Regions from separate parts of the Homo sapiens genome. Here all the other regions are reported to be linked to region 3. Evidence: microRNA targets listed by miRTarBase, many of them from high-throughput screens and not tested one by one. Region 3 holds a microRNA gene; each other region holds the end of a gene's coding sequence.
The links. Region 3 holds the annotated microRNA hsa-miR-34c-3p (AAUCACUAACCACACGGCCAGG, at 1,438-1,459, shown strand). A microRNA usually pairs through its seed, bases 2 to 8, with sites in the 3' UTR of a target mRNA and lowers its output. Matches are read on the target gene's strand: a 7mer-m8 pairs with bases 2 to 8, a 7mer-A1 pairs with bases 2 to 7 and ends in A, and an 8mer does both.

Region 1 (4,168 bases), not on the chromosome of region 3:
AAATCAAGATTTAAAGCACCATAATATATATCATTTCTTAGCATTTCCTCTCACGTTTTAACTCATTGCTTCTCTCAACTTCACCCAAAAGAGCCTTGTTTTATTAATAACGCTGTGCCTCAGGAGGCCTTTTTAATGTTTTAAAGTGTGTGAGTGCATCTGTATAAGTATTTGATACATATCTATGTCTACATGCTATATTTCTCTTCAGATTGGCCACAGTTTCCATGTGATGCTTTCTGTTGATGAATTAATCTACTTTTTAAACTTTGCTTTTGCAAGGTTTGTTGAACAAAAAATGAAAGAAAGCTTCCTGTTGTCTTGCGGCCACTAATTTAAATGCACAGATTTTTTTCTAGGTGAATGAACTTTATCCTTTGTGTATAAGGTAGGTCATTCAATGACAATGTTTAGGATGTTAGTTTATGAGCTATAAATTGGAAGAGTTGGCAGGAATAATACCATATTAATATGGGTTCACAACTGTGAGCCTAGAGATATCTCACTCTGAACCACGTATGTATGGGATAGTTCTGTCTTCACACACCACATAGCAAGAATTCACACCTTTACAATAAAACAGGAGGCATGATAGCATCACACTTTTCCTATGAGTGTGGCAACCTAACATTCCCCCAAAAACATATAGGAAAAATGTCTTAAAAAAATAAAGTCATCCTAAGGTCATAGAGAAGAATAAGAAGTAAAAAGTTATTTTATGGTCATAGTATCGTATTTTATAAGTCAATGGGCACTCAATAGCTATTTTAACAGAAGTTAACCCAGGTAAAACACCCTTAGCCTCAAAATGACTTTTGTCAAAATCTTCTTTATTTGCTCTGTAAAACTCTTAATGCCCCAATTTTACTAACAAACCATTTGTTTACAAGTGTCTTAAAATCCAGATAAGTTTAACAAAGTGGTTTCATAAAACTATAAAAACTATGTATATAGCATCACAAAGAATTAACATATTAAAGCATTATATTGGTTATCACATAAAAGCATCATAAGTTTTTCGTAGCACTCTCTCTAGAAAACAGTACATGAAGCCAAACCAAGATCTTGTCTGTCCACTCACATAAAAGGTCCCAGGTCTGTCAATGAGTTTCATTTAATTTGGAGAGCCAGTCTGCCACGGAGACCACCATTCTCCACAGAGAAAACTGCCACATTTGTGAGGTGAATGAACTTTCAGCATTTATGTTAAAGTCATCTCTGAAGTGACATCCACAATTTTAATTCCAAGTGAATGGTTTTTTCCTTGGCTAGGCACCTTTTTTTAGTAACATGTTTGCAAAGTGTCTTAAAGTGATAAGTCGTTATTCATCCCCTCAAAGTAGGTCACAATTGTATCTTGTCAACAAGTGGTAAAATATGCACACACAAGGGATGAATATGTCCCCATTTTTAAGTTTTTTTGGTACAGTTATTGTGGCTTATTACCCCCTTGAAGTATATTTAAAATACCAAACGTTATTATTCATGTAAAATATCAATGTTGTGCTTCATTAAAATGACGCTTAAGGTGTTTCCTAAAACCTAAGTTTCATAATATAATGAATAAAAGGACAGGAAAAAAAGAAATATTTTTATTAGAGGAGGAAAAGAGAAAGAGAAACTCTCCATTGAAGAAACAAAAGAGAATCACCTTGATAATTAGTTATAATTTCTTACATTTAATCAGTTATTTTTAGAAACTATTTGAAATCATTAACTCCAGACCCAGTAATAGTGCACAAATTTAATATTAAAAGACCAACTGGGACCGGGTGCTGTGGCTCACACCTGTAATCCCAGCATTTTGGGATGCAAAGGCGGGCGGATCACCTGAGGTCAGGAGTTTGAGACCAGCCTGGCCAACATGGTGAAACATCTGTCTCTACAAAAAATACAAAAATTAGCCAGGTGTGGTGGCAGATGCCTGTAATCCCAGCTACTCGGGAGGCTCAGGTGCTTGAACCCAGGAGGCAGAGGTTGCAGTAAGCCAAGATCATGCCACTGCACCCAGCCTGGGCGACAAGAGCAAGACTTCATCTCAAAAAATAATAATAATAATAATAATAATAATAATAAAGATCAATTGGTCTATTTGCCTACCAACCCAAGATTGTTGCTTATAGCCCACAGTGCTTTATATCATCCCATTTGAAAAAGTAACGCTAGTAGAAAGCACAATTTAGATTTTACACCAGAAACATAGTACCCTGTTTCTAATTCATGCTCCCAGATCACTATATCCTTGTGTCATTATCTCTTCCAAATACTGTTACATTATCTCTCTGTTTACACTTCTGATCTGTGGAAAATACCAAAATCATATTAAGAAAAAACACATCTATTTTCTATAGTATTATTAAGTGCTTTATATAACTGCCAACTCTTTATTCCAAATGAAACCTGGAAGAGAAAAAATGTTTTAAACTTGTAATTGTGAATTTTAGAAAAGCACTAGAAGTTAAAATTTCAAGCTTACAACTTCCACATAATTAAAAATATATCCTTTAAGAAAAATATATTATTTCTATATTTATGGAAGAACATCTCTTAAGAATTCATAAAAAGGACGAAATTATGTTTTAATTATGTTTTTATGTTTTCCCCATACATACCTCACAAGGCAACTATAAATCAATTTAGTCAGTCCATGAAGTTGTGATTCAGGAATTGGTTTCATTATAATAACTTCTAAAGTTTTACAATTTCTATCAGATGCCTTCTAATTACAAAGAAATCTGCTTGAAATTCTAACTATATCATGCTAGGAAAAATAAATATTTGCTGATATCCCTAGGGCAAAAACATAGTAAAACAGTCTTAATAGAAATAAGGCAAAAAACAAGTTAAATTGAGCAGTCACAAACTCTTCATATAGTCTACTTTTTTCTTCCTAATACACTTTTATTTTTGTTGAAAACTATTTGAAAATAATTTAATCTTTGGAATAGCCAATATCAGGTTCTCTAATAACATAAGGGAGAAGAGAGAGATACTATTGGTAAAGATAGACTGGATCAGTGAAAATCCACAGGATTTCCATTATCTGCAAACCATACATCCAGGCTTTATAATATAACTGGGTGCTCCTTTACAATTCCTTCCTGAGTGTGCGCCATTGGAGCCACAAGCATGCAAGCCTGAAAGCATTTAAGTGACGGCATGGCGATACTAGTCACTAACACTCTGAACCAATGCTTCCTCCCACCAAAATGAACGCCTTGCTCTGTCTTTGTAGTTCAAAGGTGGATTTTGGCTAAGGAGGAAGAAAGAAAGGCATGTTAACAAGTCATGGACACATTTTGATCTACTGCCATCTCCAAATTATGTCTGAAAGTAAATCGCAATCTGTTCATTCAAGAGTTTATTGCTTTAAGAAAATAGTACATGCTTTCCTATTACCAGTTCTTTAAAATTCTACGCCTTCCTAGAGAAAAATTATTTAGAATAAACTGCCTTCTAAACTTATAATAAAGCGTACAATAAGAGTGATCCTATTTTTCATCCTTTACAAGTGGCAATTGTCTTCCAGTGCAAATTCTCCTCTGTCCGTCTTATTTAATATTTCTATATGACTTTTAAAACACATGCAATAAAAGTAAGTAATTATCCTTTAGTAGCCATTTAAAGTTATCTGGTCTTTCCACTAGGCTTCTAATGTTATAATTCGTAGGTAGTATTCGACCATAGTGTCACATTATATTCAGCAATAACTATGTGCTTATCTTTCAAGTATGATAACCCTTCATTTTTCTTGCGATCCATATACTCTCTTTTTAAAAATGTTCTAAGCCACGGCAGCATAGTCCTTGTTTTGTTGGTTGTTTTCATTTTCTTCTGGACTGGTAATTTTTACTTCTGGCCTTGGTGGTCTTTGAGGGTCTACATCAGCCTAGAAGAAAATAGATCAAAACAAAGGTATTCAGCTGTTTGGTTCACAAAGGTAATGACATTTATAAAGAAAAAATTACTCAAGATTCTATTTAATTATATAAATATTTAACTAAAAAGAGTTCCTGGGGTTCCCTTTGTTTTTTTGTCTATCATTACCCAGTGGACATACTGTTTTCTCAACACTTGTACAAAAGTCCTTTTGGGGTTCATAATCTACTAGTGCTTGAAAGGCCCTGACTCATTTTGTATGCTGCAGGCTTTATTTTTCTCATTTTTT
Region 2 (4,168 bases), not on the chromosome of region 3:
TGATGCCGCTGTAATCATATGATTGTTTCTCTTTAGAGTGACTTAGACTTCCAATGTTTTAAAATATTTTTCAGTATGGTGGTGATATTACCCGAAAAATGAAGCTTTTGAAGAGACAAGCAGAAGGGAAAAAAAAGCTGAGGAAAATTGGCAACGTTGAAGTTCCAAAAGATGCTTTTATAAAAGTTCTGAAAACACAATCTTCTAAATAATTGGTGGGAAAACAAAGAATTTTCATTGCAATTTGTAATATGCTGACAACAGAAAGAAAATTATAAAATTTGCTTGTTACTTTCAGGGTATTCAGGTTCAAATAACCTACTAGTCTTTCGTTGAAAGGGAGTAGTTAGTGGGTAGGCAAGAGCTTAGATTTTGAAGCCATGTTGCCTGTTCTCAAATATCTGTTCCAACCACTCACTAGTAAGGTGACCGTGGCCAGATTAACCTTTGTTTCCTCTTCAGTAAAATCGAGATTATACTACTACCTACATAAGTTGTTGTTGTGAAGATTAAATGAGGTAATACGTTAAATATTCAGAGGTGCAAGACACATAGTAAGCACTCAATTGTAACTACAGTTAAGTCCTTAAATGCCATCGAAAGGTTCTTAGAAACTGACTTTAAGCAAAATGACACGTAGCACAATGTTCTTGAATGATGTCATTTCCTTAAGTGGTTTGTAACATCGATGAGGAAAAAAAATTGGTTTATGCGTCATTTCATTTTATTTTTATTTATTTTTTGAGACAGAGTCTTGCCCTGTCGCCCAGGCTGGAGTGCAATGGCACAATCTCGACTCACTGCAACCTCTGCCTCCTGGGTTCAAGAGATTCTCCTGCCTCAGCCTCCATTACAGGCGTGCACCACCATGCTCGGCTAATTTTTTGTATCTTTAGTAGAGTCGGGGTTTCACCATGTTGGCCAGGCTGGTCTTGAACTCCTGACCTCGTGATCCACCCACCGTGGCCTCCCAAAGTGCTGATTACAGGTGTGAGCCACCATGCCCAGCCATGTCATTTCATTTAAAGTCACAATTTCCATGAATCTCAACAAGTGAGGACCTGCTATATTTTGTTGCATGCAGTTTTTCTTTACGGACACTAAAAGGCCCCATACTTAAGATTCCATCTACTTTAAGTTTAAAGGATTTTCAGAATCACCTTAAGTGTCAAATTTGTTAGCAGGATTAATTGATATGAATTCACTTATTAAACAGTAAACTCAAATAACATAGACATCAAATAACAGACATCTGCTCTAGTTAATGATAAAATGTTTATAGATTTTATCAGGTGGTTAGTTTGAAACTAAATGGTTTACATCTAAATTAAGGGCAGGAGCTGTCTTTCAGACATTCAAAACGCATTTGTGTAAAATGACAGGTGTTTGGTATTACCAGGAACTCATAATGACATTTTAATAATTATTGTCTAAATTTCATAATCGAAGCGATTTTAGAGTAGTTAACTTGAGATTTCACAGCCAGTAAATGGCTGTATTTCTCCAGAGCTCTCAGCTCCCATGTTTATTCAGCCAACGAACAAACCAGACTGCAGACTGTATTAGAGCAAGACAACATCATTTAGCCATTGATTTTTATCTTCTACCTTGAATGAATTGAATGAAGAAAATGTCTTTTAGGGATAAACACTATCAAGGATGAATTTTATACTAAGGTTATATGAAAGAAAAATCTCAAAACCACTAAGCCAAAGGGAAGTCAAGCTGGGAACTGATTGAGGCAAACCTGCCTCCCATTTTATTCCTAAATAAGACAGCCACAAAGATAAAATTTGCTCACAAGGGAATTCCTTATGGACAAAGAACTCAAAGTCTTCACATGAAACAAATGCATAAATGATTGCTTTCTCTGTTTCATGTTTCACTAAGCCAGATTAAGGTATAACTGACTATTCCTCTACTCTCCTCTCACATGTAAATTGTATATTCAGTGAAAGGCTAATCAGAAACTCAAAAAAATGCAACCCTTTCTCTCTTACCTGCCTATGCTTGAAGCCCCCGCCCCTCTTCAAGTTGTCCTGCCTTTCAAGACCAATGTACACCTTACACATACTGATTGATGTCTCATGTCTCTCTAAAATGTGTAAAACCAAGCTGTGCCCCAACCACCTTGGGCACATGTGGTGAGGACCTCCTGAGGCTGTGTCATGGGCACACCTTAACCCTGGGAAAATAAACTTTCTAAACTGACTTGAGAGCTGTCTCAGATATTTTGAGCTTACAGTTATTGTGAAATCATTTTAATTATAAATTAAGTGGAGATTTACTTAAAATCATGTGTAGAAGTAGCCTGTGATATAGTCCTAGATACATACATTATCATCTTATGTATCTTCCCTCCCTCTTCCAGGTTCTGATAAAAACAGATGAAATCTGAAAGACCATGACAGTAGTATTTTGAAAATGACAGTATTTGAAATTAAAAAATTGTAAAAGTGTTCTGTTCTATCACTGCCAAAGGATAAGTTACAAATTGGTTCTTGGAACGTAATATGTACTATGTGCTTGCTATTTAATAATTTACCAGTCTTAGTCTTTTTTATTCAGACTAATTTTACCTTTTTTTAACCTATGACTCTTTAGTTATAGTAGTACAAAAAAGTAGTTTTAGTTATAGTTTTAGTTGTAGTACAAAAAAGCATTTTCTGTAAGCTTAATTTCTTTCCCCTTCCCGCTTTCCCAGTCAGATGACTTTAGTGATTTGGAGTTGTGTGCTTTATAAGTGCATTCCTCAGAGGACTTAATATTACTAAGATTTTAGCAAACACTGAAATATGTTTAAACACTGTTATCAATATTAAAATAGCACCGTTTATTGACTTTAATATGTGACAACCACTGTGCTGAGCTATGTATGCTTCCCTTATTCAATCTATGTAAAAATTTTGGGGAAGTAGCTGAGACTTTTTTATTTCCCTGACAGAGCTGGGATTCAGTGGTTGGTTTCTTGAAAAAGCTAGGTTCTTTGCCTAACAGCAGCTTAGCTCCTCAATTTAGGGAATGAAAGCAGGAATGAAAATGGCCAGAGTTTTCGCTCCTCAGCTTGTGGAGGAGCTTGAGTACATGAACCTCAACTAAGCCCCTAACATCAAGGGAAGGAAAATGGAAAGGAGAATTTTTAGACCTTTAAAGCAGAGAAATTACTGGTGAATCATGTAGCACAACAGGTACCTTTAGCTTTTTCACTGTGATGCTGTATGACTTTCTAAGGTAGTCAGCATAGTTTGTAGTAAATGATTCTTATTACTGGAAGTGTAAGTGGAGTGTTACTCACTAGTTATTTAAAAAACATTTATAAGGCTATTAAAACATCATCTGGAATTAAAGCAGCATAATTTACCCCATCCCCCACTTTTAACCATAAAACCCTATTACCAATTTTATTTCATTAATTTATTTGCTATTTTAATATTTTAAGAAACTACATTTTAATCACATAGACAAGCAGATAAGTAAGGCTTCTTCTACCAGGTGGGCTTATGAAATGCAAAATAAGCAAAAGGAGCATTTTTTTGCTCCCCACAGAGGCAAAGACATCTTTTAACCTAACTCTCCTAATGCATGATGGTAACAAACCCAAAATGAATGCAGGTTCACATGTACTATAATTGTTGGGAGTCGAATGCATGTATTCTTCAGGTTCACTTCTGGAAATTTAGATAACTTATTTATTACACGCTTTATTTGAGTTAAAGATAAAAAACAATATACTTTTATGTAAATTGCTATGGCAATGTAGTTTACAGTAATTCCTTTTATATATACTTCGTATTATTCTTTTAGACATTTTATAAGGAATAAAGCTAATTGTATATTAAGTTTAACAATAATCAGAAAATATTCTCCAAAAGAATTTCCTGAAGTGGCTTGCTAGGTATAAAGCTCATAATTGTCAAGATACTTATATTAGGGACATGAACCCAAGTCGTTAAATAAAAATAAGATATTTGTAAAAAAGTGCTATAGAAGAAGGTGCACAAAAAACATGCACTTACACATACTTTCCAAAAGGATGTAAACTGTACTTTTAGGCACTGTCATCTCTTCAAATTTCCTTTACCAATGATATATAGCACAATTTTTGATGTCTAGATGGTGCTGTAGGAAGATGACTAAGGCAACCACGTGCAGAAAAGCATGTGTGTGA
Region 3 (4,168 bases):
CTCTAAGAGTATAAGGCCAAGTCCCCAACAGAGCACAGAGGTGCAGATGAGACTCTCCAAGCCATCCTCCCATATGTCAGAGGCTACCCAAGCCCACCTCCATTTGGAAAATTCAAACCTATAATTTGAGGTACCTGGGAAGCCGCTTTCCCAGGGCGGAATGGTCACGGAAACTGGGTAGGCTGGGGGCCTTCTTGGGGAATGAGGGAGTGGAGGAGCTCTTTGTCCCTCCTGCTAGATCAGAAAGAGAAACGTCTCAAGAATCTGGGCCTCCATCTTCTAGGCGTCTCCCTTGGAGGCCCTTCAGGGACCGCCCACAGCGCTTTCTCTCAGCCTCCTCCCCCCCCCCATCCCCTCCCCCACCCGCCCCGTCTCGCGCCCGCCCCGCCCCTCGGCCCGCGGGGTTCCAAGGACGGTTGGTCGCCCCCGCCACAGTCACTCGGCCGCTCAGAGCGGCGGGGCGCACGGGGTCGAGAGAGCCAGCTCTAGGGTTTGGGGCTGGGAACTGAAGCCTGGCGTGAAGGAAGTGGGAGCCCGGGCCGAGGAGGCGAAGGGGAAAGGAAAAGCGAGGGGAACCTGAGCGGGAGGGCCCTGAGAGGAGCGGGAGGCTGCGGGAAGGGGAGGCCTGGCACTCCTGGGGGTCATGGGGGTCGGGGCGCGGCTCCCGGCCTGGGAGGGCGCGGGTCCTCCCCGGCAGCGCCGCCCGCTGGCCCAGCTACGCGTGTTGTGCGCTGCGAGGCCGGCGGGGGTCCCGCTGGGCCCGGGGGTGTCCTCGGGGGCCGCTTGCGCCCAGCCATGGTAGGGCGTCCCCCGGTGAAATGGGGTCCGAGGCGGGCCCCGACCCCGCGTCGGCGCTGCGGACCGTCCGGGAGCTGCAGCCGCGGGTGCCCGGTGCTCGGTTTGTAGGCAGTGTCATTAGCTGATTGTACTGTGGTGGTTACAATCACTAACTCCACTGCCATCAAAACAAGGCACAGCATCACCGCCGCCCGGCCGGGAAGAAGACGCCGGCTCGGGCAGCCCGCAGCCTTCGAGAGAAGATGCCTGAGAAGCGCGGCGTCGGCGTGGGTCCTGCGCAGCCTGCCCCGCGAGCGCCCGCTGCAAGTGCGAGGAAACCCGCGGTTTCTCCAGATACAGTTAAACTGTTAGCTCTCTCTAGGAGTCACAGAAGATGAAACAGTCTCATGCCAGGAAAGCAAAATCCCTGGAGGTGAAGCCCCTCCATCCATGTAACGGTTAATACTGTATGCTGTGATTCACTGTGTCTATTTGCCATCGTCTAGTAGAGTATTCACCAAGCTAGCAACTCAGTTGAGCTCCAACTCAACCAATGAATTGCCTGCCTGTCACAACGTGTTGGGGTACCAACTTGAGACTGCAATTTTTTCTATGAGTCTAGTTACTAGGCAGTGTAGTTAGCTGATTGCTAATAGTACCAATCACTAACCACACGGCCAGGTAAAAAGATTTGGGAATTCGTCCAAATGAGCTGCCTGTGCATCATCAATGTGCGTGGGGAAGAGGGGTGTTGGAAAATGCTGATTTCATCCATTGCCTATTAATTGCTCAGCCAAAAGAAAAAAATCAACATTTCAGCTACTAAGTTTACAATGTATGTAATGTGTATGTATGTGGGGTTTTGTTTTGTTTTTTTTTCAATATTCCTTCAGGCTCTTAACCAAAATTTTAGATATAAGGGGGAATATGATTTTTTTCTTAGCTGACTGATGTATGTTATTATATGAACATGTGATTATTAACTTCTTGAGACTATATTGTTAGTAATATTTTGAAAGTAATATTGTTAGTAATATTTCGAAAGAATAAAGTGCCATAAAGACATAAATTGTGGTTATTGCTATGTGTCCATTTCCTTTGCTAAATTGACTTTATGATGTCCATCTCAGTTCCTGCCACAGTAATCTTAACTTTTCTATCAATGAAGTGGTTAAGTTGTTCCTGCCATGACAAAAATCTCCCGGGAAAGCTACTCATACACACAGACTTGTTAATACTTTTATAAGAAATACATTAACAAAATTTTTCATACTTCTTTTTTCCATGAAGAGACTCTGTTCACTCATTAAGATGTATCCCTTCTTTTAAGTAATCATTTACAACTGTTGGAGTCTATGCAACTTTTAGTGGGAGTGATTAGTAAATGCACTTACACTTTAAATCCAGCTTGTTTCCTAAGATTTAAAGGATTCAGAATTTTAAAATCACAGAAACTGTACACATGGGCACGTATCCGCCCAGTTCAGGCCTCTAGCTCCCAAGGGCTAGGCTTTCAGGCGTGAATTCTCCAGCGCAACGTTCTCAGAACTTCCACCTAGCAGGTGCTGTCCCTGGCAATCTGGTTTGGAAGTGGGGATTGGGGCAATGGGGCTGAGGAATTTAAAGTTTATTTAGCTATCTTTCTGGGGGGAGGGGAGAGGATGTGGCAGCCCACTGAGGATATAAGAAGCTAAACTACTCCCCCACTGACTCCGACAGGACACAACCCAAAGTTGACGTTTTGACTCTCCCATATCCAAGATTTGGACTGGTCCTAAAACCTGATCACCGCAGGGGTGGGCTTCCGACGGCCCCCACGCGCGTGGCGGATCCCAACACCTACCTAGGAAACCGAGGGCAGCCGGCAGGGGCTGGTACCAACTTGGCGGTTCTCGGAGGGGCGGGGCAGGGGCGGGGCGGGGGGAGGGGAGAGGACGCTTGCAGAAGCGTCCTCAGTTGCCATGGAAACGGGACCCAGCGAAGAACCTAGCGGCCGAAAAGAGTCCCAGGAAATGTGCCCCCCGGGATTACTGGTATTTGCTGGCTCCTCGGAACAAGATGCCAACTTGGCTAAGCAGTTCTGGATCTCGGCGTCGATGTATCCCCCTAGCGAATCTCAGCTGGTGCTGCGCAGAGACAGCAGTCAGCGTCTGCCGGTGGCGCGGCCCAGGAGGAGCAGAGGGTCTGGTGAGTAGAATAGCGGCCTCCTGTCAGTCATATCTGCCTCACCGTAACTGGCCTGCAGGTACCAGAGCCCTTTCCAGGAGAAACTGCAATGGTATATACAAATAGTTATAAGTACATACAAATGCATGTATAAATATTTCCTGAACCCTTCCAGCAACCCTTCCACCCGAAAAGGATCAGTGGTATATATGTTACATCTAAAAACATATAAGTTTCCCTTAAATTATGGCATCTATTTGGTAAACAGTATAGAATAATCTGAGGAAATGCTATGTGTTGGCTGAAAGGATAGTTTACATAGTTTAATTCAAACATGAAAAGCCCTGGAGAAAGATGAAGGTGGAGTCAACATTACCAATGAACTTCCTGGACCTGTGAGCCCTTAGTGAGGCCTAGGATGTGGAAACTGTTATGCAATTGTTATAGTATAAAAAATTCAAACGCCTTTAATGTTGTTGACTTTTCCAATGATTTCTTTACTTCCCTTTTGTATTTTTTAGAAAACAGCCACTCCTCGCAGTCTTTTCACCTTGCGAGTAACAGTAAGTACCAAGTTTTATGCCTTTCAACATTCTGACTCCTAGGTTCATCAGAAAATAGACAATAAGTACAAGGGTACTACTTTACACTGTGGTATAACTTTCTGAATTGAACACCTAAGTCCCTGCTCAGGGACCACCCTGTTTATCCAGAGGACAATGCCTAAATTCCTTTAACAGTTTGAACAGGAATGTAGAAATTGGAATCTCTGATCCTGCAGATATGCTCTCTTTCGAGACTTTTTCTTGTCTCTGGACTCGAGCTTACTCATCATCTAAAGAGATTAGAGGTTCCCTGCAGCCATAGCTAATTAACTCAGTCTCCAGTTGTTTGCAAATCTGGTTTGTAAAGTTCCAATACACCACATGTATTTTTGTTTACCTTCCTACTCTATGTATTCCCTTTCAACCCATGTCCAATTTTATATCAATTTTAGTATAAAATCATAATAAAATTATTTCAGATTGAATTTGACTTTATTCCCTCTAGAAAATAGAGACATCTTTGCCGAAGCCCTAAAGATACAGGAATCTGAGGAGAAAGTAAAGTATCTCCAAAAGGTAGGCCAATATTTCAGAAGGTCATCTGATCATCATTAAATTTCTAAATAATCTTGATTTTTTAAACACATGTATATTTAAAAATCTGCTACTTCTAGTGCATC
Region 4 (4,168 bases), not on the chromosome of region 3:
CTTAATAAGATATTTTTATTTCATATTCTATTTTTGGAACATGATATTGTTTTTCTTCACATTGGCGATATAAATTTGCCTTTTAAGGAAAAAAATTAAGGGGGAAATAAAGAAAAGTACTGGATAAATTAGAGTTCAGGTGTCTGAGTATAATGATACAAATCATGCCTGTACATCCATGGAATGAGGCTGGGAGCAGCTCTCCATTTATTCATGCTGCCTCCCTCACTCACGGGACACGCGGGGCTTCATGTGATCATCGTGACACTAAGTTCTGAATCTGCTCTTTATTTATTTCCCTTAGAAATATATAGAAGCAATTATAATGAAAGCCATACTTGCCCTTAGGACCATTGAGGTGTCCTTCTTAAGCATACATTTTATAACTGAAATCAACCCAAGCTAGTAATGGAGTCTTAAAACCTAGAAAAAATATGTAAGTTTATTGCAAAAGATAATATCCCGTTTAAAACAGTTTAGAAATTTACAAAACCTTACATCAGTACATCGTCTTTAAGAAGGTGCTCTATAGATGAGCTGGTATTAAGTTCCAAGGATAGTGAGTATGCATTTATGCATTGCTTTTTAAACTACAGAGAAAGCAGCTACATAAACTCCTGCAATTTAAGTTGATGTATTGGTCTTTTTCCTTTCAATTTTATAAAAGTAATTTTTGCTAAGTTAATATCTCTCCAGCAAACCAGATAACCTCAAGTACAGCATTTCTGTAGAATATCATGGTAGATGTTACGTAATATTTTACAAAGAAGCAGTGATTTTCACATGAATAAGTGAGTATGCAGTTTTGGTATATGTGTGTGTGGTGTTTTAAACATAGAGACGACCATTTTTGTTCATCAGGAAAATGTTTATGGAATCCTATTTCCTCATAATGATTTTAAATATCAATTTTTCAGAAGAGAACTCCTTCCCAGTTTCAGGTCAGTGGCCCAAGCAATGCGGTGTTGTGCTTTGGTGTAGAATCAGTACAGCCTTGTTTGGCTGTATTTCTAGAAATGTCAACATTTTATTTATTTTTTTCTTTTCTTTTCTTTTCTTTTTTTTTTGTTGGGGAAGTGCAGAAAATGTCAACATTTTCTAGTCCCAGTTTTATTTAATTCAGTTAAGGGTTCATGTGAGGGCCTCAACTGGAAACATATCTATGACCACATCAGCTTATTAATTTTGTGTGAGGTACCTCAAACATCTCTTTATCTTCCCAGGCTAACTTTGGCCAGTAATCCAGCTCAGCTCTGAGTCACTCAGCTCACATAATGTGGAACGTGCTAAGAGTTTATAAAGTAGGAAAGCATATGTTCTTATCTGTATTCAAGAATGGACAAACAGGCCGGGAAATTTAAGCCATTTGCCAAAGGCTAGTGGTATAGACTGCTTGGTTGCCTGGATCTCTTAATTCTGGGAACAGGGTTATTTACATTCTAGCATGATGCCCGAGAATATAAATTCACATGAAATTAGCGTAAGCAAAGCAAATTAAGATGGAAGCTCTACTACAAGATAAAATTACATAAGAGGTCCCAAATGATTTCACTTTATTGGATTATCCTCTATTCTGTTCTTTTCCATTGCTGGGGCCAACTGACAGTTGATCGTATGGATACAGGAAAAAAAAAATCTGTGGCTTTTAGCCAGTGGTAGCATATCTTATTGAAATGTGGCTTCTTAAGTATGACAAGTGTATTTATCTTAATTCTAACATGACGTTATATATTCCGGTCTGATTCTGTGGGCTTAAACATTACACTAGAAACAGAACAAGAACATCTTGAATGACATTCCAAGACTTAAATAGTGCAAGCTGATATTCCTTGCCAAATTTCCCTTTCATTCTCACTGAAATAGCTTTGTTCACTGCATCACTATGACAGGGGAAGGTGAAACCATCGGAGTGGTTTGCTCAATTAGGCTCAATTTGCAGTGGGGTAGGTACATCCCACGAACACACAGGATTCTGTGCTCTGCAAAGATTCTAGCTTAGACACTGGATCTTCAGCCAAGGGAATTACAAAATACCTTCTTCGTTTAATGTATGTTTAGTTTCAGGCTCCCTTTCTAGCAATGTCAATCTAACCACATGCTGATAGAGATTTTAATTCAACCAGAAGGAATCTGAGCCTTTCCATCCTACCCCTCATCCACAAGAGTATATAGCAATTACTTAATTATATTACTTTAGTAGTTTGTTCAGCCATGCAAGTTTGACTGGATCCACATGTATGTAGGTCTTGTCAACAGAATGAGCCAGACCTTGAATAACTCAGACTTTGGGATGGAAAGATATTTAAACCTCAAATAGAAAAAACTATATCCTCATCCATAGTCCTGCTAGTTTTTCAATCAGGTGACCATTGTCTGGTCACCAGGAAGGGAGACTGTGTCGATTAATATATGTTTGAACCTATCTACACGGCTGTTTCTGGGATGAAGGGATGAGAAACAGTGTTGTGTTTTATCTTAGCCTTATCTATGTTACTCATAAGATGTAACTGATGGACAGGTTGCTGGATCTCATGATTTTAAATATTGCAGGTAAGTTAACTATGGAGTCTTAAAGTTCACACCAAAAACAGATTCCACCCATTTGCCAGGTGGTCTCAGGCCCTAGGCAGAGAAGAAGCATGATGGTTTAGGGTGGGCCCTGGAACAGCTACAGCTGCTGAAATCCTCTTTGAATTACACTTATCCAGCACAGCCACACCAACAAGTTTATACCCTGGGGTGGCCTGACTCTGCCACAGGCAGAAAGGTGCATGCACCATGAGATGACAGAGCCTTAATTTGGGATCAAGGGGCTAATTAAAAAGGAAAACAACCCAACACACCAGGGTGATCTTGCATAAGCATTTTATGCCCTGCCCACTTCTCTTGTGCTTATTATGTATGCTGATATCTTAGAAAACTGCCAGTTTATCTCATTTTTTTCTATGGTACCTGCTTATAACCTATAACCTCCCTCTACCTTCCGGGTCTGCACAACACTATTTTTTTCTTTTGGGTTTATGAACCCAGGATGGGAAGGAAGTGCTTGGCATCTTGGAGGTGTTGGAAGGTGTAGTGTGGGGTTTTGCTCGTGGTGGGAATCTGGTCTTAAAACTCAGCATGAGTTCTGGCTGAGTGTGACAGGGAACTTGGCAAGCGGTCACTCTAGTGTCCGTGAAGCCCTCAGCAAGCAGTCGCACGCACTCAGGTAAGGATCGTGGTCAGGTGTCCAGCAGCGGCTACATCAGCTCCAAGGCTCTTCTGTTTCACAGGCCAAGGGGCTCACAGCCCAGGGCCTTTGCAAAGAAGCAGGGCAGGCCTTAAGTGCAGTGGATTTCCCATCTCAGGGAAGTGCGTGGAGTTGGGGGGCTGGGGGATGGTCCCAACCAGCTCAGATCCACCAGAAGCATTTCTTTTTCACCTTCTTGGTTTTCCGCCTTAAGTCCTGCTTTTCCGGGGCTGGGGGTTCTGCTGGGGACTTTGGTGGGGGCGATGCCTCCTCAACTGGCTCTGCTTCCTCCAGACTCTGCAAAACTTCATGGAACCTGCCTTCCTGCTGCCGAAAATCATACTCTACACTGAAAAACACAGAGAGGAAGGAAGGAAAGTGAATTCGAATCAGCACAGACTGATTAAGCATCTCTCAGCCCCAACTAATATGGAAGAGCATGAGCTTTGGGATCAAATCCTAGATCCTTAGGTACCTACTGGCTCTTTGACCTTGGGAAAGTGATGCCACCTCTCTGAACCTCTAGTTCTTCAGTGATTGAATTGGCACCTGTAATGCCTTCCTCACAGGGATGTTATTAAGGGTCAGTGAGACCTGATGGCAAGTGTTCTGTAAATATTGGCTCCAGTCTCTCTCTTAATCATTAATGGGGTTTTGGCATGTGTTATGCATGAAAACTGTCTCATTATTAAAAAATTGAGATAATGCAGAGGAACAGACAAGAAAACTGACAGCTCAGTTTCATTATCTGTAAAATGGGGGTAATAAGAGCACCTATCTCAAAGGCTTTCTTTGGAATTAATGTGTGTAAACTGAGATAATATAAATGAAATGCTCAGAGTAGTGCCTGGCGTGCGCTAAGTCCTCCGTATGTGTTAGCTTCTATTACCGCTATCATCATCATCATTAACATAATTTCTACCAATATATTACGTCTTG

Region 1: miRTarBase lists DCDC2 as a target of hsa-miR-34c-3p. Seed matches in the 3' UTR shown: 7mer-m8 at 2,231-2,237.
Region 2: miRTarBase lists GUF1 as a target of hsa-miR-34c-3p. The part of its 3' UTR that is shown has no 7-base or 8-base seed match.
Region 4: the mRNA of INSYN2B is a reported target of hsa-miR-34c-3p. Seed matches in the 3' UTR shown: 7mer-m8 at 1,877-1,883.

What each region holds. Positions count from the first base shown.
Region 1 is chr6:24,170,946-24,175,113 of GRCh38, forward strand. It overlaps DCDC2 (doublecortin domain containing 2), which reads right to left. Exons shown (of 10, transcript NM_016356.5): 10 at 810-3,889. The coding sequence ends at 3,785. Among named protein-coding and RNA genes, the nearest start is that of NRSN1, 47 kb to the left of the region's middle.
Region 2 is chr4:44,698,470-44,702,637 of GRCh38, forward strand. GUF1 (GTP binding elongation factor GUF1) reads left to right here. Exons shown (of 17, transcript NM_021927.3): 17 at 75-2,459. The coding sequence ends at 212. GNPDA2 (glucosamine-6-phosphate deaminase 2) reads right to left here. Exons shown (of 7, transcript NM_138335.3): 7 at 3,326-4,168. Among named protein-coding and RNA genes, the nearest start is that of GUF1, 22 kb to the left of the region's middle.
Region 3 is chr11:111,512,047-111,516,214 of GRCh38, forward strand. MIR34C (microRNA 34c) reads left to right here and starts at 1,393; the gene lies at 1,393-1,469. It overlaps BTG4 (BTG anti-proliferation factor 4), which reads right to left and starts at 340. Exons shown (of 5, transcript NM_001367975.1): 1 at 135-340. HOATZ (HOATZ cilia and flagella associated protein) reads left to right here and starts at 2,732. Exons shown (of 6, transcript NM_001100388.2): 1 at 2,732-2,964; 2 at 3,465-3,506; 3 at 3,994-4,064. The coding sequence starts at 2,739. MIR34BHG (MIR34B and MIR34C host gene) reads left to right here. Exons shown (of 2, transcript NR_147706.1): 2 at 972-1,842. It also overlaps MIR34B.
Region 4 is chr5:169,860,882-169,865,049 of GRCh38, forward strand. It overlaps INSYN2B (inhibitory synaptic factor family member 2B), which reads right to left. Exons shown (of 4, transcript NM_001129891.3): 4 at 422-3,578. The coding sequence ends at 3,392. The region is part of intron 27 of DOCK2 (dedicator of cytokinesis 2); the gene reads left to right. Among named protein-coding and RNA genes, the nearest start is that of INSYN2B, 120 kb to the right of the region's middle.